2 linked regions of the Homo sapiens genome follow. The protein of the gene in region 1 purifies or fractionates together with the protein of each later gene. This does not show direct contact. Each region holds a gene or a part of one and is shown on either strand. Other genes may lie near its edges.

Evidence for each region.
Region 2: the proteins of RILPL2 (region 1) and RAB10 purify together in Homo sapiens (co-immunoprecipitation; 2 studies listed by IntAct). This does not show direct contact.

Annotation. Positions count from the first base shown.
Region 1 is NC_000012.12:123,417,051-123,428,287, forward strand, and holds part of RILPL2 (RILP-like protein 2), read right to left. Parts: intron 6,108-11,237; coding exon 5,994-6,107; intron 1-5,993. UniProt on the Homo sapiens protein: Involved in cell shape and neuronal morphogenesis, positively regulating the establishment and maintenance of dendritic spines. Plays a role in cellular protein transport, including protein transport away from primary cilia.
Region 2 is NC_000002.12:26,118,745-26,129,981, forward strand, and holds part of RAB10 (ras-related protein Rab-10), read left to right. Parts: intron 1-8,399; coding exon 8,400-8,489; intron 8,490-9,105; coding exon 9,106-9,207; intron 9,208-11,237. UniProt on the Homo sapiens protein: The small GTPases Rab are key regulators of intracellular membrane trafficking, from the formation of transport vesicles to their fusion with membranes.

The sequences.
Region 1 (11,237 bases):
CACATTGGGAGGCTGAGGCGGGCGGATTGCTTGAGCTCAGGAGTTCCAGACCAGCCTGAGAAACGTGGAGAAACCCCATCTTTACCAAAAATACAAAAATTAGCTGGGCATGATGGTGAACACCTGTGGTCCCAGCTACTCGGGAGGCTGAGGTGGGAGGATCGCTTGAAACTGGGAGGCGGAGGTTGCAGTGAGCTGAGATCAAGCTACCGCACACCAGCCTGGGTGACAGAGTGAGACCCCATCTCAAAAAAAAAAAAAGGAAAAAAGAAACACCCCCATTGGCCTTACTTTGACCCTGTCTCCCAACCCTTCTCCACAAGGCAACCAGAGTGAGCTTTTTGTACATAAATACGGTCATGTTACTCTCCAGCTTAAAACCATCCAATGTCTCTTCCCAACGTACCTAGAATAAAACCCACAGTCAGCACCAGAAAGAATCCACGTGGCCCTGGGTGACCCAGCCCCTCCCACCTCTCCAATCCCACCTCCATTCTCTTCCCTGTTCCAGTCACCATGGTCTTCTGTTCTGAAAATTTCTTTTTTTTTTTGAGACAGAGTTTCACTGTGGTTGCCCAGGCTCAAGTGCAATGGCACGATCTCGGCTCACGGCAACCTCCGCCTACCAGAGTTCAAGCAATTCTCCTGCCTCAGCCTCCTGAGTAGCTGGGATTACAGGCATGCGCCACCACGCCCAGCTAATTTTGTATTTTTAGTAGAGATGGGGTTTCTCCATGTTGGCCAGGTTCGTCTCGAACTCTGGGCCTCAGGTGATCTGCCCGCCTTGGCCTCCCAAAGTGCTGGGATTACAGGCGTGAGCCACTGTGCCTGGCCTGTTCTGGGAATTTCTGTAGCCTGAAGCTCTTACACTTACTGTCCCGTCTACCAGGAATGCTCTTTTGTTTTGGTGGGAGACGGGATCTTGCTCTGTCATCCAGGCTGGAGTGTAGTGGTGTGACCATGGCCTACTGTAGCCTGGACCTCTTGTGCTCAAGAGATCCTCCCAAGTAGCTGGAACTACAGGCACATACCCGGCTAATTTTATTCTTTTTTGTAGAGATGAGGTCTCTACAAAAAAGCTCTCTATGTTGCCCAGGCTAGTCTCAAACTCTTGGGCTCAAGCGATCCTCTGGCCTTGGCCTCCCAAAGTGCTGGGATTACAGGCATGAGCCACTGCTCCTGTCCTGGAATGCTCTTCCTTCCGGTCTTTAATGTACTTCAGTGATCAGTTTGAATGTCACCTCCTCACAGAAGCCTTCCAGGACTTCCCAACTCGATTTTCTTGTGTTTTTTTTCCCACTGCTGTGATAAAAGATAACCCAAATCTAAAGTAGTCCTCTCTCTCCCGTTCTGTCCCCTTATTTGTGATCATAGCACATATAGCTATCTGAAATTGTCCTGTTAATATATTTCTTTACCTGTTCACTCTCTGACTCCCTCTACTAGAATGTAAGGTCCACGAGCCAGAGACTTTAGGTTCTGTTCACTGCTGTATCTTCAGCACCTACAACAGTGCCTGGCACATGGCAGACCCTCAGTAAATATTTGTTGAATGAATGGAGTACAGGAAAGCTGCAGCCTACTGTCCTGACACCTGGCAACTAAGAGGGCACATATCAGTGTGGTCCAAGGAACTTTTGAAAAAAATCCAGATTTCTGAGCTTCATCCAAGAACCACTGACTTGATTTCTTTTTCTTTTTCTTTCTTTTTTTTTTTTTTTTTTTTTTTGAGACAGAGTCTTGCTCTGTTGCTAGGCTGGAGTGCAGTGGCGCAATCTCAGCTCACTACAACCTCTGCCTCCCGGGTTCAAGCAATTCTCTTGCCTCAGCCTCTTGAGTAGCTGGGACTACAGGCTTGGGGTTTCACCATGTTGGCCAGGATGGTCTCAATCTTCTGACCTTGTGATCTGCCCGCCTCAGCCTCCAAAAGTGCTGAGATTATAGGTGTGACCCACTGCGCCCGGCTTTTTTTTTTTTTGAGACGGAGTCTCGCTCTGTCACTCAGGCTGGAGTGCAGTGGCACGATCTCGGCTCACTGCAAGCTCTGCCTGCTGGGTTCACGCCATTCTCCTGCCTCAGCCTCCCGAGTAGCTGGGAATACAGGCGCCCACTACCATGCCCGGCTAATTTTTTGTATTTTTAGTGGAGATGGGGTTTCACCATGTTAGCCAGGATGGTCAGCCAGGATGGTCTCCATATCCTGACCTTGTGATCTGCCCGCCTCGGCCTCCCAAAGTGCTGGGATTACAGGTGTGAGCTACTGCGCCCGGCCTACTGACTTGATTTCTGAGAATCTGAATTTTACACAAGCACCTCACTCTTAGTATAAGAGGCAGCATCCGAAGAACTATGGGATCAACCCTGGTGCACAGACATGAGGGAAGTATTCAGAGGAAAGTGCATAGCATGTTCCAATGCTGGGACACGGCTCATTCAAGAGGAATGGTCCCACGTGGGACAGGGAGAGGTCCTTGGGCATTTCCCACAGCCAGGCTGAAACTGCCTGTTGCTCCAGTTCTATTCTGGTTATCAAGAGGATATTGACTCCCTTTTTTCTTTTTTTTTTTTTTTTTGAGATGGAGTCTTGCTCTATTGCCCAGGCTGGAGTGCAGGGGTGTGATCTCAGCTCACTGCAATATCCTCCTCCCAGGTTCAAGTGATTATTCTACTTCAGCCTCCCGAGTAGCTGAAATTACAGAGGCCATGGCTAATTTTGTATTTTTATTTATTTAATTTTTATTTTTATCTATTTATTTTTTTTCAGACACAGTCTCATTCTGTCGCCCAGGCTGGAGTGCAGTGGTGCGATCTTGGCTCACTGCAACCTCTGCCTCCCAGGTTAAAGCGATTCTCCTGCCTCAGCCTCCCAGGTTAAAGCGATTCTCCTGCCTCAGCCTCCCAAGTAGCTGGGACTATAGGTACACGCCACCACACCCAGCTAATTTTTGTATTTTTAGTAGAGACGGGGTTTCTTTTTTTTTTTTTTTTTTTTGAGACAGAGTCTTGCTCTGTTGCCCAGGCTGGAGTGCAGTGGTGTGATCTTGGCTCACTGCAACATCCGCCTCCTGGGTTCATGCCATTCTCCTGCCTCAGCCTCCTGAGTAGCTGGGATTAAAGGAGCCTGCCACCATGCCTGGCTAATTTTTTTGTATTTTTAGTAGAGACGTGGTTTCACCATGTTAGCCAGGATGGTCTCGATCTCCTGACCTCGTGATCCTCCCGCCTCGGCCTCCCAAAGTGCTGGGATTACAGGCCTGAGCCACTGCGCCTGGCAGAGACGGGGTTTCACCATGTTGGCCAGGATGATCTTGATCTCTTGGCTTGGTGATCCGCCCACCTCGGCCTCCCAAAGTCTTGGGATTACAGGCGTAAGCCACTGTGCCCGGCCTATTTTTATTTTTTTTGAGACAGAGTCTCGTTTTGTTGCCCAGGCTGGAGTGCAGTGGTGCAATCTCAGTTCACTGCAACCTCTGCCTCCTGGGCTCAGGCGATTCTCCTGCCTCAGCCTCCCGAGTAGCTGGGATTACAGGCACCCGCCACCATGCCCGGCTAATTTTTGTATTTTTAGTAGAGACGGGGCTTCACCATGTTGGCTAGGCTGGTCTCGAACTCCTGACCTCAGGTGATCCTCCCACCTCAGCCTCCCGAAGTGCTGGGTTTACAGGCGTCAGCCACTGCGCCCGGTCGAGTTTGACTCTTGATTCCATTTCCTGAGCATCACCATGTGCAGCAGGAAACATTCTGGAAAGGTGTTTTCCCTGCCGTAGATTCCATGTAGCCCAAGATTAGGGGCGAATGCACTTAGGAGGTAAATAGATGCGGCTTCAGGTCTGAGTTCCACCACCACTGACCCGCTGTGTAACCTTTGCAGGTCATTGATCCTCTCTGACTCTCAGTTTGCCCGTCTGTAAAACAGATCTCCTGAGTAGATGTTTACTCAGCTCAGTGTCTGGCACATAGCAAATGCTCACTAAGTGGGAGCTATGTTAAATCTTTTTTTTTTTTTTTTTGAGACAGGGTCTCACTCTGTTGCTCAGACTGGAGTGCAGTGGCACCATCTCGGCTCACCTCAACCTCCGCCTCCCAAGCTCAAGTGATTCTCCTGCTTCAGCTTCCTGAGTAGCTGAGATTAAGGCGAACGCCACTACCACCCAGCTCATTTTTGTATTTTTTAATAGAGTCAGGGTTTCACCATGTTGGCCAGGCTGGTCTCGAACTCATGACCTCAAATGATCCACCCACCTCGGAAGTACTGGGATTACAGGTGTAAGCCACTGCATCTGGCTTAGCTATGGCGAATCTTAAGGTATGGGGAATTATCTTTCCCTTTCCCCAGTCCTACTTCATCTCATCAAATTAAACCCAACAGCCTCTGAGTAATATTGGGAAGAAAACTGCTATTTCCCTGCCCACCATACTGAGCTCACATGAACCACTGCCCCCAGAGGAAGAACCATGACTTTGCTCTCTGGAAGCTACATGCCTGACTGCCTCTTCCTTTGGTTTTTTCCTGCTGGGCCAGAGGTATTCTCCCCTGTGCTCCTGCCCCTTGCCCTCTGCCCCTGCTCCCTTCCAAGCTCCTCAAGGTCCTGTCCCTGAGAAAGAAGGCCTGGGTTATTCCTTTTTTTTTTTTTTTTTTTTGAGTCTCGCTCTGTTGCCCAGGCTAGAGTGCAGTGGCACAATCTCGGCTCACTGCAACCTCCACCTCCCGGGCTCAAGCGATTCTCCTGCCTCAGCCTCCCGAATAGGTGGGATTACAGGCATCTGCCATCACGCCCGGCTAATTTTTGGATTTTTAGTAGAGACGAGGTTTTGCCATGTTGGCCAGGCTGGTCTCGAACTCCTGACCTCAGGTGATCTGCCCGCCTCAGCCTCCCAAAGTGCTGGGATTACAGGAGTAAGCCACCGTGCCTGGTCATCGCTATTATCATTTTTGTTTTCTTTCTTTCTCTCTCTTTTTTTTTTTTTTTGAGATAGGGTCACGCTCTGTTACCCAGGCTGGAGTGCAGTAGCGTGATAATAGTGATAATAGTTTACTGCAGCCTTGAACTCCTGGGCTTAAGTAATCCTCCAGTCTCATCCTCCTGAGTAGCTGGGACCACAGGTGCAGGCCACCACGCCCAGCTAATTTCACTTGATCTCAGCTAAAAGGCCGACAAATGATACCAGCTAATTAAAAAAAAAAAAATTGGCCAGGCGCAGTGGCTCATGCCTGTAATCCCAGCACTTTGGGAGGCTGAGGCAGGTTGGTCACGAGGAGTTCAAGACCAGCCTGTCCAACATGGTGAAACCCCATCTCTACCAAAAATACAAAAATTAGCCAGGCATGGTGGCGCATGCCTGTAATCCCAGCTACTCAGTAGGCTGAGGCAGGAGAACTGCTTGAACCTGGGAGGCAGAGGTTGCAGTGATCCGAGATTGCACCACTGCACTCCAGCCTAGGCGACAGAGTGAGACTTTGTCTCAAAACAAAAAACAAAACGATGTTTTTTCATTGACATGGGGTCTCACTTTGTTGCCCAGGCTAGTCTCAAACTCCTGGCTTCAAATGAATCTCTTGCCTCAGCCTCCTGTAATCACTGTTGAGATTACAGGTGTGAGCCATTGCACCCAGCCTGGTCAAACATCACAGGGAGGCAGTGGAGTGTAGAAGCCAGACTTCCTTGGGTTCCTGACTTCACTATTTACCCTCTGTGAGACCTTGGGCAAGTTACCTTACCTCTCAGTAGCTATTTCTCCATCTGTAAAATAGTATCTACCTTGCAGGGTCACTGTGATGATTCGATGAATTAATATATGCCAAGTGCCTAGGCTACTGCCTGGCAGATATCATTATAATACACTGGCATTGAGTTTTCCCATGGGCTGCAGCACCACAACCGGGAGAGTAGAGGCCCTCCCTGCCCTGGGCAGCTGGTCAGCCTCTTCTTGCCCCCGACTACTTCCTTGAGTTATTATTTGGCGGGACCGGGGGGCAGCAAGGTGACACTTACAGCTTTTTTATGATTGTCTTCTCCTCCTTGTTCCTGCCAGCATTTTTGGCACTAGTAACCACAGCATCTTTTTCTCTTCTTCCTCCTGGGCCTTCTCTTGGTGGAATCAGGCCACTGGGAAACGGGACAAAAAATAAATGGATTATTTTATTACAGATCGTTTTTTTTTTTTTTTTGAGTTGGAGTCTTTCTCTGTTGCCCAGGCTAGAGTGCAGTGGCGCCATCTCAGCTCACTGCAACCTCCGCCTCCCGGGTTCAAGTGATTCTCCTGCCTCTGCCTCCTGAATAGCTAGGACTACAGGCGCCTGCCACCATGCTCGGCTAATTTTTGTATTTTTAGTAGAGATGGGCTTCACCGTGTTGCCCAGGCTGGTCTCAAACTCTTGACCTCAAGTGATCCATCTGCCTCAGACTCCCAAAGTGCTGGGATTACAGGCATGAACCACTGAGCCTGGCTTTTATTACAGACCTCTTATCTGTGCAGCTCTGAAAATAAAGGGTCTTAATGATGATGATGATGATTATGGTAATATTACGGTTGAAAGCACTAGAGTCAGAGAAATTCTGTTTAAAATTAGAATCTTCCCTGTACCTTTCCAATGTGATGCCTCGTTTCTTTTTTTTTTTTGAGACGGATTCTCGCTCTGTTGCCCAGGCTGGAGTGCAGTGGCGCGATCTCGGCTCACTGCAAGCTCCGCCTCCCAGGTTCCCGCCATTCTCTTGCCTCAGCCCCCCGAGTAGCTGGGACTATAGGCGCCCGCCACCACACCCGGCTCATTTTTTGTATTTTTAGTAGAGACAGGGTTTCACTGTGTTAGCCAGGATGGTCTCAATCTCCTGACCCAGTGATCTGCCCGCCTCAGCCTCCCAAAGTGCTGGGATTACAGGTGTGAGCCACCGTGCCTGACCCTCTTGTTTCTTTCTCTTACCTAATTGCATTGGCTACTGCTTCAAGCTTCTCAGTTTTCTAGGAATATGATTGTGTATAAATTCTCTAACTTAAGCCTTGGTTTCCTAACCTATAAAATGAGTCTAATAATAGTACCTACCTCAAAGGATTGAGAGATTATCTAAGATGATACATAGTGCTTAACATTCAACAAATATTTATTAAGCTACCTACTGTGGTTAATAAATATTTTGTCTCTGAACTGTTTTGTCTCTGAACAAAATAGACAAAATATATTCTCTCACGTAATTTATATTCCAGTAGGAGAAGGAAACAGTCAATAAAGAAATAAGTAAAATAAAAGTATAAATTGTAAGTCAGATGTTGATAAGAGTTAGATTTTTTTTTTTTTTTTTTGAGACAGAGTCTTGCTCTGTCGCCCAGACTGGAGTGCAGTGGCACGATCTCGGCTCACCGTAGCCTCTGCCTCCCGGGTTCAAATGATTCTCCTGCCTCAGCCTCCCAAGTAGCTGGGATTACAGGTGTGCACCACCACGCCTGGCTAATTTTGTATTTTTAGCAGAGACAGGGTTTCTCCATGTTGGTCAGGCTGGTCTCAAACTCCCGACCTCAGGTGATCCACCCGCCTTGGCCTCCCAAAGTGTTGGGATTACAGGCATGAGCCACCACACCCAGCCCCTTCCCAATTATGTTACCAAAAAATTTCCTTTTGTGTTTAAGCTAGTTTAAATCGGACTTCTGTCACTTGCAACCATAAGAAGACTGACCAAAATGAAACATTTCAATTACGGCACAGTACAACTCATTACATCCACTTAAGCGTTTTGTTGCAGTGCCCACTGGTAAATTTACCCCCATGGTGTTGTCCCCTTGCTGTGGACTGAATTGTGTGTTTTAATTTTTTTATTTATTTTATTTTTAAAAATTTTCATTTATTTATTTTTTTGAGACAGAGTCTAGCTCTGTCACCCAGGCTGGAGTGGTGGCGCTACCTTGGCTCACTGCAAGCTCCGCCTCCCGGGTTCACGCCATTCTCCTGCCTCAGCCTCTCAAGTAGCTGGGACTACAGGCGTCCGCCACCACGCCCGGCTAATTTTTTGTATTTTTAGTAGAGATAGGATTTCACTGTGTTAGCCAGGATGGTATCAATCTCCTGACCTCGTGATCCGCCCGCCTCTGCCTCCCAAAGTGCTGTACAGGCATAAGCCACTGCGCCCGGCCTTATTATTATTTTTTTTTTGAGATGGAGTTTCACTATTGTTGCCCAGGCTGGAGTGCAATGGTGCAATCTCAACTTGCTGCAACCTCCGTTTCCCAGGTTCAAGCGATTCTCCTGCCTCAGCCTCCCGAGTAGCTGGGATTACAGGTGCCCACCACCACACTTGGCTAATTTTTTTGTATTTTCAGTAGAGACGGGGTTTCACCATGTTGGCCACGCTGGTTTTGAACTCCTGACGTCAAGTGATCTGCCTGCCTCAGCCTCCCAAAATGCTGGGATTACAGGTGTGAGCCATCGTGCCTGGCCGAATTGTGTGTCTTTAATAAAAATTCCTGGCCAGGCTCAGTGGCTCACCATGTATTTCACAGCACCTTGAGCTGACAAAGATACCTCTTTCAGTGTGAGTGTGAAAGGGCAGGATTCATACTTCTCCCTCCTTCTTCATAAAAGAGTTTTGCAAAGAGTGGGCTCTTAATATCTACTTTTTTTTTTTTTTTGAGACAGAGTCTTGCTGTCGCCCAGGCTGGAGTACAGTGGTGCGATCTTGGCTCACTGCAACCTCCACCTCCCTGGTTCAAGCAATTCCCCTGCCCCAGCCTCCAGAGTAGCTGGGATTACAGGTGCACGCCACCATGCCTGGCTAATTTTTTTGTATATTTAGTAGAGATGAGATTTCACCATGTTGGCCAGACTGGTCTCGAACTCCTGACCTCAGGCAATCTGCCTGCCTCGGCCTCCCAAAGTGCTGGGATTACAGGCGTGAGCCACTGTGCTCAGCCATTTCTTAATATTGTTATCAATAATTAAAAAAAATTTTTTTGAGACAGGGTCTTGATCCATTGCCCAGGCTCATCTTGAACTCCTAGGCTCAAGTGTTCCTCCTGTCCCAAACTCCCAAAGTGTTGGGATTACAGGCATGAGCCACCAAACCCGGCCTAAATTTTTGTAATTACAAAATATTATATTATTTATATTCTAATTTTATTTTATTTTTGAGACAGAGTCTCACTCTATCACCCAGGCTGGAGTGCAGTGGCAAAATCTCTGCTCATTGCAACCTCCGCCTCCTGGGTTCAAGTGATTCTTGTGCCTCAGCCTTTTCAGTAGCTGGGATTACAGGTGTGTACCACCACACCCGGCTAATTTTTGTATTTTTAGTATTGACGGAGTTTTGCCATGTTGGCCAGGCTGGTGTTGATTGAACTCCTGACCTCAGGTGATCCACCCACGTTGTCCTCCCAAAGTGTTGGGATTACAGGTGTGAGCCACCTGCCCAGCTGATATTTTATTATAGATACTTATTATAATAATGATTTAACAAGAAGCATCATCTAAAATTTCCATTTTTCCATGATCTATTATTACATAAATTAAACTTGGTGACTAAAAACAGTGGTGACATGATCTCCAATGATGACTCTTTCTTTCTTTCTTTTTTTTCTTTTTTTGAGATGGAGTCTCGCTGTCGCCCAGGCTGGAGTGCAGTGGCGCGATCTCGGCTCACTGCAGGCTCTGCCCCCCGGGGCTCACGCCATCCTCCTGCCTCAGCCTCCCGAGTAGCTGGGACTACAGGTGCCCGCCACCTCGTCTGGCTAATTTTTTTATATTTTTAGTAGAGACGGGGTTTCACTGTGTTAGCCAGGATGGTCTCGATCTCCTGACCTCGTGATCTGCCCACCTCGGCCTCCCAAAGTGCTGGGATTACAGGCGTGAGCCACCGCGGCCAGCCGACTCTTTCTTATAATTGGCTTTCTTTTTTTTTTTTTTTAGATCAGATCTCACTGTGTTGCCCAGGCTGGAGTGCAGTTGCTATTCACGGGTGCAATCACTGCCCACTGAAGCCTCAAATTCCTAGTCTCGTGGGATCCTCCTGCCTCAGCCTCCCAAGTAGCTGAGACTACAGGCACTGAGACTATAGGTGCACACTGCTGTGCCTGGCTTCTTATGGTTGGCTCTGTGGTCCACCTGCTAGCCTGAGCTTCTCACTTGGCTGCGTTCAGTGGGCCATTGGCGGAGGGCTGTGCACAGCTGGGGCTGTCAGCAGGTGCGCCCTGGTTCTCCTTCACATGACCTCTCCATGGGACTTCCCCTTGAGCTTCCTCACAGAATGCTGGTCTCAAGGAAGCATTCTAAGAGCACAGAAACAGAAGAAAGGCCTCTTACCAACTTAACCCCAGAGGCCTAACAGCGTCACTTCCACCCTGTTCTCACAGTCAAAGCAAGTCACAGAGCCAGCCTACATGCAAAGAGAGGGAAAACAGAATCCACCTCTTGATGAAAGGAGTGGCAAAGTTTCATTGCAAAAGGTATGCAGGGTGGGAAATACTGCTGTGGCTCTCTTTGGAAGCAACCTACCATATTTCCCTGGAATTATACTTTTTTTTTTTTGAGATACAGTCTCGCTCTGTCACCCAGGCTGGAGTGCAGTGACACATCTCAGCTCACTGCAACCTGCGCCTCCTGGGTACAAGCAATTCTCCTGCCTCAGCCTCCTGAACAGCTGGGACTACAGGTATGAGTCACCACGCCTGGCTAATAATTTTTATATTTTTAATAGAGACGGAGTTTCACCATGTTGCCCAGGCTGATCTCAAACTCCTGACCTCAGGCAATCTGCCTGCCTCGGCCTCCCAAAGTGCTGGGATTACAGGTGTGAGCCACCTCAACCAGCTGTAATCAATTTATTATCAGTATATTATCTGTGTGAGTTTGGACCTTCAAATGGATGCAGTTGCTATGAGAACATCTCAGCTGGCATGCTGGCTTCTCCACAATATATAACACTAGAGACGAAGCAGAATCCTGCCTCTCTTGGCCTGAGCCAGATGGAAAGTGTGCGTCTCTTGTTCTCTGAGAATTCAAAACTAGAAAGAAAGTGTGTGGTTTTGCCCACTAACAAGCTGCTCACGACACCAGCAGCTTGGCAGTTTCTCTTTTTAACTACCTGTGCCTGAACTACTTATTTTATTCTATTTTTTTTCTGAGATGGAGTCTCGCTCTTCCGCCCAGGCTGGAGTGCAGTGGCGAGATGTCGGCTCGCTGCAAGCTCCACCTCCCAGGTTCACACCATTCTCCTGCCTCAGCCTCCCAAGTAGCTGGGACTACAGGCGCCCGC
Region 2 (11,237 bases), on another chromosome or scaffold:
AAGTTGAGAAACCTTGGTCTAAATGCACCTCTCTGTATTAGTACCTTGGGAAAATTAACCATATTTTAAGCTAGTTACAGTCTGCATGTGTGATTCATAGAGATATGTGTCCTCCTGCATAAACATGTCTCTTTATGGATATGTCTGTGTGGTGCAACTACCAATCTTTCTTTGGGTGTTTTTGCCGTAAGTGGTTGTAAACACAATGCGTATCCGACTGAAAAAAGATTAATGTGCATGTTGGCATAAGAAAATGTATGAGAGAAGTTCTGTGTATTCTGAGTGCTGTTTTATTGGTCCCCTGGCTCAGCAGTGAAGTCTTTAACCTCATCATGCTTGCTGCTTATTGTTAGTAAGATCATCCAAGTAAGGATGTATAGGGCTGTGCACGGTGGCTCACACCTGTAATCCCAGCACTTTGGGAATCCAAGGTGGGAGGATTGCTTGAGTTTAGGAGTTCGAGACCAGCTTGAGCAACATAGCAAGACCTCATCTCTACTAAAAAAGTTTATTTTTTAAAGTCGGATATGGCGGTGAGTACCTGTAGTCCCAGCTATTTGGTAGGCTGAGGTGGGAGGATCACCTGAGCCCAGGAGATCAAGGCTGTAGTGAGCTGATTATAGCAGTGCATTCCAGCCTGGGTGACACAGCGAGACCCTGTCTCAAAAAAAAAATAAATTTTAAAAAGAGTTGTATAATACTATTTTGACCTTTGTCTTAGTTTTTGTGTTTTGTTATTCAAAGAAGTGTATCCCAAGTCTTTTCAGGTCTTAGCTTTGCTTTTTTTTTTTTCTTTTTAAAGACAGGGTCTCACTCTGTCAGGTTAGAGTGCAGTGGCACAATCACAGCTTACTGCAGCCTCTACCTCCTGAGCTCAAGCTATCCTCCCAGCCTAGCCTCCCAGGTACCTAGGACCACAAGCGTGCTATATCATGTCTGGCTAATTTTTATTTTTGTGGTGATGGGGTCTTACTGTGTTGCCCTGGCTGGCCTCAAATTCTTGGGCTCAAGCAATCTTCCTGCATTGGCTTCCCAGAATGTTGGGATTATACACATGAGCCACTGTGCCCAGCAGGCTTACTTTCAAATATATTTTTGAGCTAGAATTATATTTATGCTCTGAAATGGTACACATGTATAAAGAATTATACCTATTTCCTCACTAGCCCCAGAATACTGATGTGAGTTGGCGTGGAGGTGTAGTAGGTTGTAAATTGGTGGTCTGATTGCTAAAGCTTTTTTAAAAAACAGGCTGAAAATATCTTAACACTTATAAATTTATATATAAGGTAATTTTCCCTTTTTTATACTTCATTGATCATTTATTTATTGGCTTCGGCTTCGTTCCATCAGCCTGCTTGCACCTAACTTACAGGTGTTCTTAGTAGAACAGTGACTTCTAAAGCTACAGATAATTTATCTTCTCTTTGAGTGGAGGTTCATGTTAGTGGCTCTGGTAACTTGCAGTGTTTAGGATGTGGGTAGATTATTACAGGTCACTGTGATAATTTGTCCATTTAGCAGCTGGGAGCTTTTAAAACCATGCTTCTGTACTTCTTTGGGATCATGGACCCCTTTGAGAAATTAGAATCTTACCAGAATGATGTACTTATACAACTTGCAAAGTTTTATGTGTGCTCCTTGGAATTATTGATGTCCCCGAAGTCCATCCTTAGATTCTGAGATCAAAATGCCTCTTACTTTTAGCACATGGCAGGATTTTAGGAGCACCTGGTATATTGCTGCTTATTACTGGATATTTGCCAAGTTGCCTTTGTTTTAGCAGTAACATAAATTAAGAGGCACTAAATTCAGATAAGACCATGGAATCCCTAAATAGGGAGTTTCTTTTTTTTTTTTCTTGAGACGGAGTCTCGCTCTGTTGCCCAGGCTGGAGTGCAGTGGTGCTATCTTGGCTCACTGCAAGCTCTACCTCCCGGGTTCACACCATTCTCCTGCCTCAGCCTCCTGAGTAGCTGGGACTACAGGGCGTCCATCAACACACCCAGCTAATTTTTTGTATTTTTAGTAGACACGAGGTTTCACTGTGTTAGCCAGGATGGTCTCAATCTCCTGACCTCGTGATCCGCCCGCCTCGGCCTCCCAAAATGCTGGGATTATAGGCATGAGCCACCGCATCCAGCCAGCGAGTTTCTTTATAGTATATTATAATTTTTTTTTTCCCGAGACAAAGTCTTGCTCTGTCACCCAGGCTGGAGTGCAGTGGTATCATCTCAGCTCACTGCAACCTCCACCTCCTGGGTTCAAGTGATTGTCCTGCCTCAGCCTCCCAAGTAGCTGAGATTACAGACGTGCATCGCCACACCCGGCTAATTTTAGTAATTTTAGTAGAGACAGGGTTTTGCCATATTGGCCAGGCTGGTCTCGAACCCCTGACCTCATGTGATCCACCCACCTCAGCCTCCCAAAGTGCTGGCTTTACAGGCGTGAGCCACCACATGCGGTATAATTTTTCTTTGTTAAGCTTGTGATTCTACTAAGGGTATCGTCCTTGCAACAAAAGAGTTGTTTCCTCCCTAATCCCACCTTTGTCTACCCCCTTTTAAACTGTCATTGACCCTTGAACTGCAGGTTCACTTACACATGGATATTTTTGTTTAAAGAGATGGGGACTCGCAGTGTTGCCCAGGCTGGTCTCAAACTCCAGGGGTCAAGTGATTCTTCCTTCTCAGCCTCCCAAGAAGCTGGGATTACAGGTGTGTGCCACCACACCCAGCTCTATAAACAGGTTTTTAAAAACAAATCTTTTGGAAAAAATGTTAGAGACTTGCAACAACTTGAAAAACTCACAGACAAGCCACATAACCTAGAAATATTGGGCGGGGGGGAAATTAAGAAAAAGTTAAGTATATTATGAATGTCTAAAGTATATGTAGATACTAGTCTATTTTATTACTACCATAAAACATACACAGATCTATTATTAAAAGTTTAAATTTATTAACACTCAAACACACAGAGCCCATACAAGGCACCTTTTGCATCAAGAGAAATGTAACAGAGATGCAGTATTAAATCATAATTGCATAAAAATAACTAATACATACTGTACTACTGTGATAATTTTGTAGCCACCTCCTGTTGCTATTTTGGTGAGCTCGTATGTTTCCAAGTGTCTGCTTAAAACACCATGTGATGTGGATCATCTCCCCGTGAACAGTTTGTGTCTCCAGTAAATCCCATATTGCAATCAAAAGAGGTCTTTTGTGGTTCTTGCGTGTTTTCATCGTGTCTAGTGCAATACCATAAACCTTGAATAACACCATCAGACCTATACAAAGTGCCACTAGTGATGCCAGAAGCAATCCTGAGAAACAGAAAAGTCATGACATTACAAGAAAAAATTGAATTGCTTAATATGTACTGTAGAATGAGGTCTGCAGCTGTGGTTGCCCGTTATTTCAAGATAAATTAATCCAGCATAAGGACCATTTTAAATAAAAGAAAATTTGTGAAGCCATCACTGCAGCCACAGCAGGAGGTGTGAAACCTTGCACTTTTTACAGAATACCTTTTTATCTCATGTTGAAAATGCAGCTCTTATGTGGGTACAGGATTGCTATAAGAAAGGCATACTTGTAGGCTGGGCGCGGTGGCTCACGCCTGTAATCCCAGCACTTTGGGAGGCCAAGGCGGGCAGATCACGAGGTCAGGAGATCGAGACCATCCTGGCTAACACGTTGAAACCCCGTCTCTACTGAAAATACAAAAAATTAGCCAGGCGTGGTGGCGGGCGCCTGTAGTCCCAGCCACTCGGGAGGCTGAGGCAGGAGAATGGTGTGAACCCGGGAGGCAGAGCTTGCAGTGAGCTGAGATCACACCACTGCACTCCAGCCTGGGCGACAGAGCGACTCTGTCTCAAAAAAAAAAACAAAAAAAAAGGGCATACTTGTAGACTATGATATTCAAGAAAAAGTGAAGTTATTATATGACAACTTAAAGCAAAACGGAAGAGAAGCTAGAGGAGTTAATGCCAGCAAAGAATGGTTTGATAATTTTAGAAAGAGGCTTGGCCTAAAAATGGCAGGCTAACAGGAGAAGCAGCTTCTGCTGACTAAGACACAGCAGACAAGTTCCTGGGCACCGCTGAACAAGTCTTTAATGCAGTTAAAAGTGTCCTATTCTCGGGGTGGCAGGGAGGGGGGCAGGCCACAAAGGACATGAGTGTTAGGAAAAGAAGAAAGCACAGGGAATTAAGGCAGGAAGGGATAGGCTAACTACTGTTCTGTGCAAATGCAATTGGGTTTATGATCAGGACTGACTGCCCTTACGTATAAAGTTGCTAACCCCCAAGACCTGAAGGGAAAAGTCTTTTGAAGCTGCCAGTTTTTTGATCATTCAACAAGAAGACCTGAACACTGAGAATCCTTTTTCTGGATTGGTTCCATCAATACTTTGTCCCTGAAATCAGGAAATACCTTGCCATTATGGGACAGCCCTTTAAAGTTCTTTTGATGTTGGACAGTGCCCCTGGCCACCCAGAACCCCATGAGTTTAACACCGAAAACATTGAAGTGGTCTACTTGCCCCCGAACACAGTCTCTAATTCAGCATCTAGATCAGGGGATCATGAGGACCTTTAAGGTTAATAACACACGGTACTCTAACCTCAATAGAACATCATGAAAATCTGGAGGAATTACACCGCTGAAGATGCCATCGTTATAGAAAAAGCCATGAAAGCCATCAAGCACAAAACAGTAACTTCCTGCTGGAGAAAACTGTGTACCGATGTTGAGCATGATTTCACAGGATTTGTAGCAGAGCCAGTCAAGGAATTTATGAAAGAGACTGTGGATAAGACAAGAGCTAATAGACATCAACCAGAGGAATCAACAGAAGATGATTTAATGAAGATGCCGGTGCTTCCAAACCAGCGTTGGACGATAAGGAAGAAGGCAAAGAAGTAGTGCCAGAAAACAAATTGACTGTAGACAATCTGGCAGAAGGGTTCTGATTATTCAAGACTGCTTTAGACTTACTGTACAACATGGACCATTGTGTGATACAGGCACTGAAACTGAAGCAAATGATGAAAGAAGGATTGGTTTTGTATAGAAATATTTTTAAAGAAATGAAAAAGCAAAAAAGAAATTACAATGTTTTTCCGTAAAGTTAAACTGAGTGTGCCTGCCTCCCCTTCCACCTTCTCTACCTCTTCTGCCTCTGCCTTCCCTGAGACAGCAAGACCAACCCCCTCCTCTTTCTCCTCCTCAGCCTACTCAATTTGAAGACATTGAGGATGAAGACCTTTATGATGATCCACTTCCACTTAATGAATAGTAAATATATTTTTCTTCCTTATGATTTTCTTAATAACATTTTCTTTTCTCTAACTTTATGGTAAGAATACAGTATAGAATACATATATAAAATATGTTAATCGACTGTTACTGATAATACTTCTGGTTAGCATCAGGCTGTTACTAATTAAGTGTTTGGGGAGTAAAAGTTATACATGGTATACCCTTACCCCCATTGTTCAAGGGTCAACTGTATGTTGTTTTAAATCAGCATATTTTATAACTTTCCTAGTTTTTTTTTTTCTTATAGCTACAGGAAATGAAGTAACCGCAGCCATTTGGCAGTTTTGTTGCTGTTGTTTTTCTTATTGTTGTTGTTGCTTTTTTTTTTTTTTTTTTTTTTTTTTTTGAGACAGGTTCTTGCTTTGTTGCCCTGGCTGGAGTGCAGTGGCAGTGATAATAGTTCACTCCAGCCTTGAGCTCTTGGGCTCAAGTGCTCCTCCTGCCTCAGCTTCTTAAAGTGTTGGGATTACAGGCATGAGCCCCCGTGCTCAGCCTATTGTTGTTTTTGAATACTTTTTAAAATTGTGGTGAAATACATACAACATGAAATTTTCATTTTAACTATTATTTTGGTGTATAGTTCAGTGGTGTTAAGTACATTCTACTGTTGTGCAACCGTCACCACCATCCATTTCCAGAACTTTTTCATCTTTCTGAACTCAAGCTTTGCATCCATTAAACAATGATTTCTGTCTCCCCCTTTCCCCATCTCCTGGCAACTGTCACCATTCTATTTTCTATGAATTTGACTGTTATAGGTACCTCATATAAGTGGAATCATATAGTATTTGTTCAATTTGTAAGTAATTTACTTCATTTAACATAAAGTTTTCAAGGTTCATCTACATTGTAGCATGTGTCAGAACTTGTTTATTTTTTGAGGCTGAATAATATTCCATTGTTTTTATATGCCATGTTCTGTTTATTCATTCACCCATTGTTGGATATGTGGGTTGTTTTCACCCTTTTACTATTGTGAATAATGTTGCTGTGAACACTGGTGTACAAATATCTGAGTCCCTGCTTTAAATTCTTCTGCGTGTATACCCATGAGTGGAATTGCTGGATCATATGATAATTCTGTGTGTAACCTTTTGAGGAATCACCAGACTTTTCCACAGTGATTGCACCATTTTACATTCCTACCAACAGTACACAAAGGTGTCGGTTTCTCCACATCCTCGCCAATATGTGTTTTCTGTTTTTTTAATAGTAGCCATACTAATGGGTATGTAGTGGTATCTCTCATTGTGGTTTTTGATTTGCATTTCCTAATCTTAGTGATATTGAGCATCTATTCATGTGCATATTGTTTGTTTGTATATCTTCTTTGAAGAAATGTCTATTCAAATCCTTTGCTTGCTTTTTTTTTTTTTTTTTTTTAAATTTTTTCCAGACAGGTTCTTGCTCTGTTCCCCAGGCTGGAGTACAGAGGCATGATGATCATGGCTCACTGCAGCCTCAACTTCCCAGGCTCAAGTGATTCTCCTACCACAGCCTCCTAAGTAGCTGGGACTACAGGCACACACCACCGTGCCTGGCTAATTTTTAAATTTTTTGTAGAGATGAGGTCTCACAGTGTTACTCAGGCTAGTCTCGAACTCCTGGGCTCAGGCAATTTTCCTGACAGCCTCCCAAAGTGCTGTCATTTTTTGTTGTTGTTAGGAGTTTTAGGTGTTTTTTATATATTCTAGGTATTATTCCCTTTCAAATACATGATTTACAAATATTTCCTCCTTTTTGTGGGTAGTCTTTTCATTCTCTTGATAGCGTCCTTTGTTGCACAGTAGTTTTTAACTTTGATGAAGTACAGTTTAACTACTTTTTCTTTTATTGCCTGTGCTTTTGGTATCATGTCAAAGAAACCATTGCCAAATCCAGTGTCCTGAAGCTTTTCCCTATGTTTTCTTCTAAGAGTTTTATAGTTTGAGGTCTTTGATCTAGTTCAAGTTAATTTTTTTATATGGTTTAAAATAAGGATCCAGCTTCATTGTTTTGCATGTGGATATCTGGTTTTCCTAGTGCTATTTATTGAAAAGACTGTCCTTTCCCTATTGACTGATTTTGGCATCCTTGTCGAGGGTCATTTGACTAAGTATGTGAGGATTTATTTCTGGGCTCTCTATTCCATTCCATTAGTCTGTGTATCTGTCTTTATGCCAGTTCCACACTTTTTGATTTGCAGTAAGTTCTGAAATTTGACTCCCCCAGCTAATATTATTTTGGCTGGGCTCAGTGGCTCATGCCTGTAATCCTAGCTCTTTGGGAGGCCGATGGGGGTGGATCACTTGAGGCCAGGAGTTCGCGATCAGCCTGGCCAACATGGCAAAACCCCCCATCTCTACCAGAAAACTACAAAAATTAGCTGGCATGGTAGTACACACACCTGTAGTCCCAGCTACTCACAGCTACTCAAGAGGCTAAGGCAGGAGAATCGCTTGAACTCGGGAGGCGAAAGTTGCAGGAAGCCCAGATCACACCACTGCACTCCAGCCTGGGCAACAGAGCAAGGCTCTGTCTCAAAAAGAGAGATTCTTTTGATGTTAGATTCCATATGAATTTTTGGATAGATCTTTCTATTTCTGCAAAAATTGTCATTGGGATCTTAAGGGGACAACCACTTGTTTTTAACTGATTTTTCTGCATGGACCTCCTTGTGCCATAGCAGCACAGCTATTTGAGAGTTTAAGGCTCTATAAAATGTTTAATTAAGGCTTCTATAGGGTAGTATGCATTATAAAATCTGAAATGATCCAGCCTGGATTTAGATTATGCAAGTTTCTTTGCTTGTATCTTCTCTTTTGGTAAGAAAGAACATACCTAGAAAGTAGACAGCCTCCTTTAGGGAGGAAATAGTATTTGACATGGATATGTCTTGGGAATTGCGTTTCTTTTGCTAGGTAATCTAAGAATTTGTGTAGGCTTTTAGTATGGAGTAGTTTTAGGGTGACTGCTTTAAAACTTCAAAGCTATAGAAATGACCCTCTAAATTGAGAGAATAAAGTCACTTTTAAAGACTGTTAAGCCGTAATTCATGGTAGTATGTAAAAGTAAAATTTTATTTCATTTTAGCATGCCAATGAAGATGTGGAAAGAATGTTACTAGGAAACAAGTGTGATATGGACGACAAAAGAGTTGTACCTAAAGGAAAAGGAGAACAGGTAAAAATCTGAATTAAACTGATACTCTGCTCTGTCTTTGTAAAGGTAATGCTACTTTTGATTATTTTTATAGTAATAGTGATCGAACACACTAAGCTAATTACATAGTTTTTAAAATGCTTGTTGGAAATAATATTTTATCATTTGAGTGAATTTTTTTTCAGTGCATATTTAACATGTATGGGAGAATCAAATGTGCCCATAGTATTTTTAGCCTTATTTAAACTACAAAGAGAGAAAAATATAAGTCATTAATCCTCGGTTTTTAAACTTAGGACTTTAAGGAAATGTATCAATTAGTATGGTTCTAAAATGTGACAATCAGGAGCCTATGGTGAGCAGAAATTAGACCCTGAGGAGTCAGGTTGAGCTTCTCATAAGTTTGCCCCCAGTGTGAAGTATCTGACTTAGAATATCTGAAATAAACTTTTGGGGTAAGGAGATTACTTTTCTTTTGTTTGTTTTATGAAAGAGCTTGACTTGCTGAAATATTCTGTGTTATATATTCTAGTTGGGACCACTGCCTTCAGAATAAGATTAATATTTAAGCTGTTAAAGTCAGCAGTTGGCAACCCATGCTTGATAATTTTATGATGATATTTTGTTTCTGTTTTAGATTGCAAGGGAGCATGGTATTAGGTTTTTTGAGACTAGTGCAAAAGCAAATATAAACATCGAAAAGGCGTTCCTCACGTTAGCTGAAGATATCCTTCGAAAGGTAAGTTCCTGTTTTTATATCCTGCCAGGTACCTGAGTATCTCTGTTGAATATTTTGTCTATTCTGAAGTACTGGATTTACATACAGAATTTGAGTTTGGGTGGTATTGTTTCTGTAGGGCAGCAGTCCCCAGCCTTTTTGGCACCAAGGACTGGTTTCATGGAAGATAATTTTTCCATGGACCGTACTGGGGGGTAGTTTCACCCAGAAACTACCCCACCTCAGATCATCAGGCGTTAGATCCTCCTAAGGAGCACGCAACCTAGATCCCTTGCATGTGCAGTTCACAGTGGGGTTTGCACTCCTATGAGAATCTAATGCTATCACTGATCTGATGGGAGGCGGAGCTCAGGTAATAATGCTCACTCACTTGCTGCTCACCTCCTGCTGGGTGGCCCCGTTCTTAACAGGCCACGGACCGGTAAGAGTCCACAGCCCCGGGGTTGGGGACTTGTGCTATAAGGAACTGGGGAAACAGAAAGCCATCTAGAAATCTGAAGGATCTAGTCAGTGGTAACCATTAATATTCTGAGCTCCACAGTCACTGTCTAGTCCCTAGTTCAATTATTTTTTCCAGCTTTTTGTCTTTTCTAGCCTTTTTACTCTTGGACTCATTTCGCTTAATGAGTACTTTGCATTCTCAAAGATAATTTAGGAAATTTTAAGAAATGAATCTATTAAGTAGTTATTGCCACAGAATTGCTATTCTGCCATATTAGTCACTTCTCAGGCAAATAAAGGGCGTGTACATATTCTGTACGTACTGAATAAAACCTATTATGTAAGAAAATAAATAATGCTGAAAATGTGATCTTGGGGAATTTATATTTTACCTCAGGTTTGTTTCTGGGTTTAAGATTTGTGACTCTCAATATTTGCTAGTGTAAGTAACATGTAGTCAAATTAGGAAATCGGATTTTCGTATTTTCCCTCGAGTGAATAGGTATAATGCATGGATTTGGTTATGAGTCCTGAATTCTCTGTTCAATCTGTTGAAATTTTAAATGCAAATAAATACAGATAAAATCTGACATACATTGGCCAGGCGCGGTGGCTCACGTCTATAATCCCAGCACTTTGGGAGGCTGAGGCGGGTGGATCACGAGGTCAGGAGATGAGACCATCCTGGCCAACACGGTGAAACCCCATCTGTACTAAAAATACAAAAATTAGCTGGGTGTGGTGGCACGTGCCTGTAATCCCAGCTTCTTGGGAGGCTGAGGCAGAAGAATCCCTTGAACCAGGGAGTCAGAGGTTGCAGTGAGCCGAGATCACGCCACTGCATGCCAGCTTGGGGACAGACCAAGACTCCATCTCAAAAAAAAAAAAAAAAAAAAAAAAAAAAATCTGACACACATCCTAAAAGAGAAGCAGATGTTGTATAGGAGAAAATGTAATTACATTTGGTAACCTTTCTATTTTTATATTTGAAATATTAATATATTTTTCTAAAACCAACCTATACATAAAAGGTAGATGTTTGTTTTTAAATTTTCTTAACCAACCAGTTTTCTTTCTCCACTTTGGAAGGACAGAGACATTAGCTGTAGTAGAGGTGGTATGTCACATATAAATCTAGTGAAATTTCTGAGCAATTATAAGAGATTGAGTTGAGATATTTACATTGAAGTAAATTATATAGAGGCATTAAAACTAAGGGACCTAATTTTTAGAGTGAAATGTAGGTATCTGTTTACTACAATTGAATATTCAAACTGGAAAAAACAGTCATCAGTTATTGCTCTTCAATGGGACTAAAAAATTGGTGCCCTTTTGAGTCTGCCAGCTTCCTTGCATATCATATTTTGGGATTTCCTGCTTTAGGAGATGTTTTTCTATGAGAATCCAGTCAGATCAAAAATTGAATTTTATTTCAGAGAATGAGAGAGGCTGACAGCAATTAAAATAAGTATAAAAGATCTCCATAGTGTATTGAGTGATAAAAAGCAAATTAGGATATAATATGTGAAGTGATCTCATTTTTCAAGATTATATGATACCAAACATACATATGTACACGCAGATACATT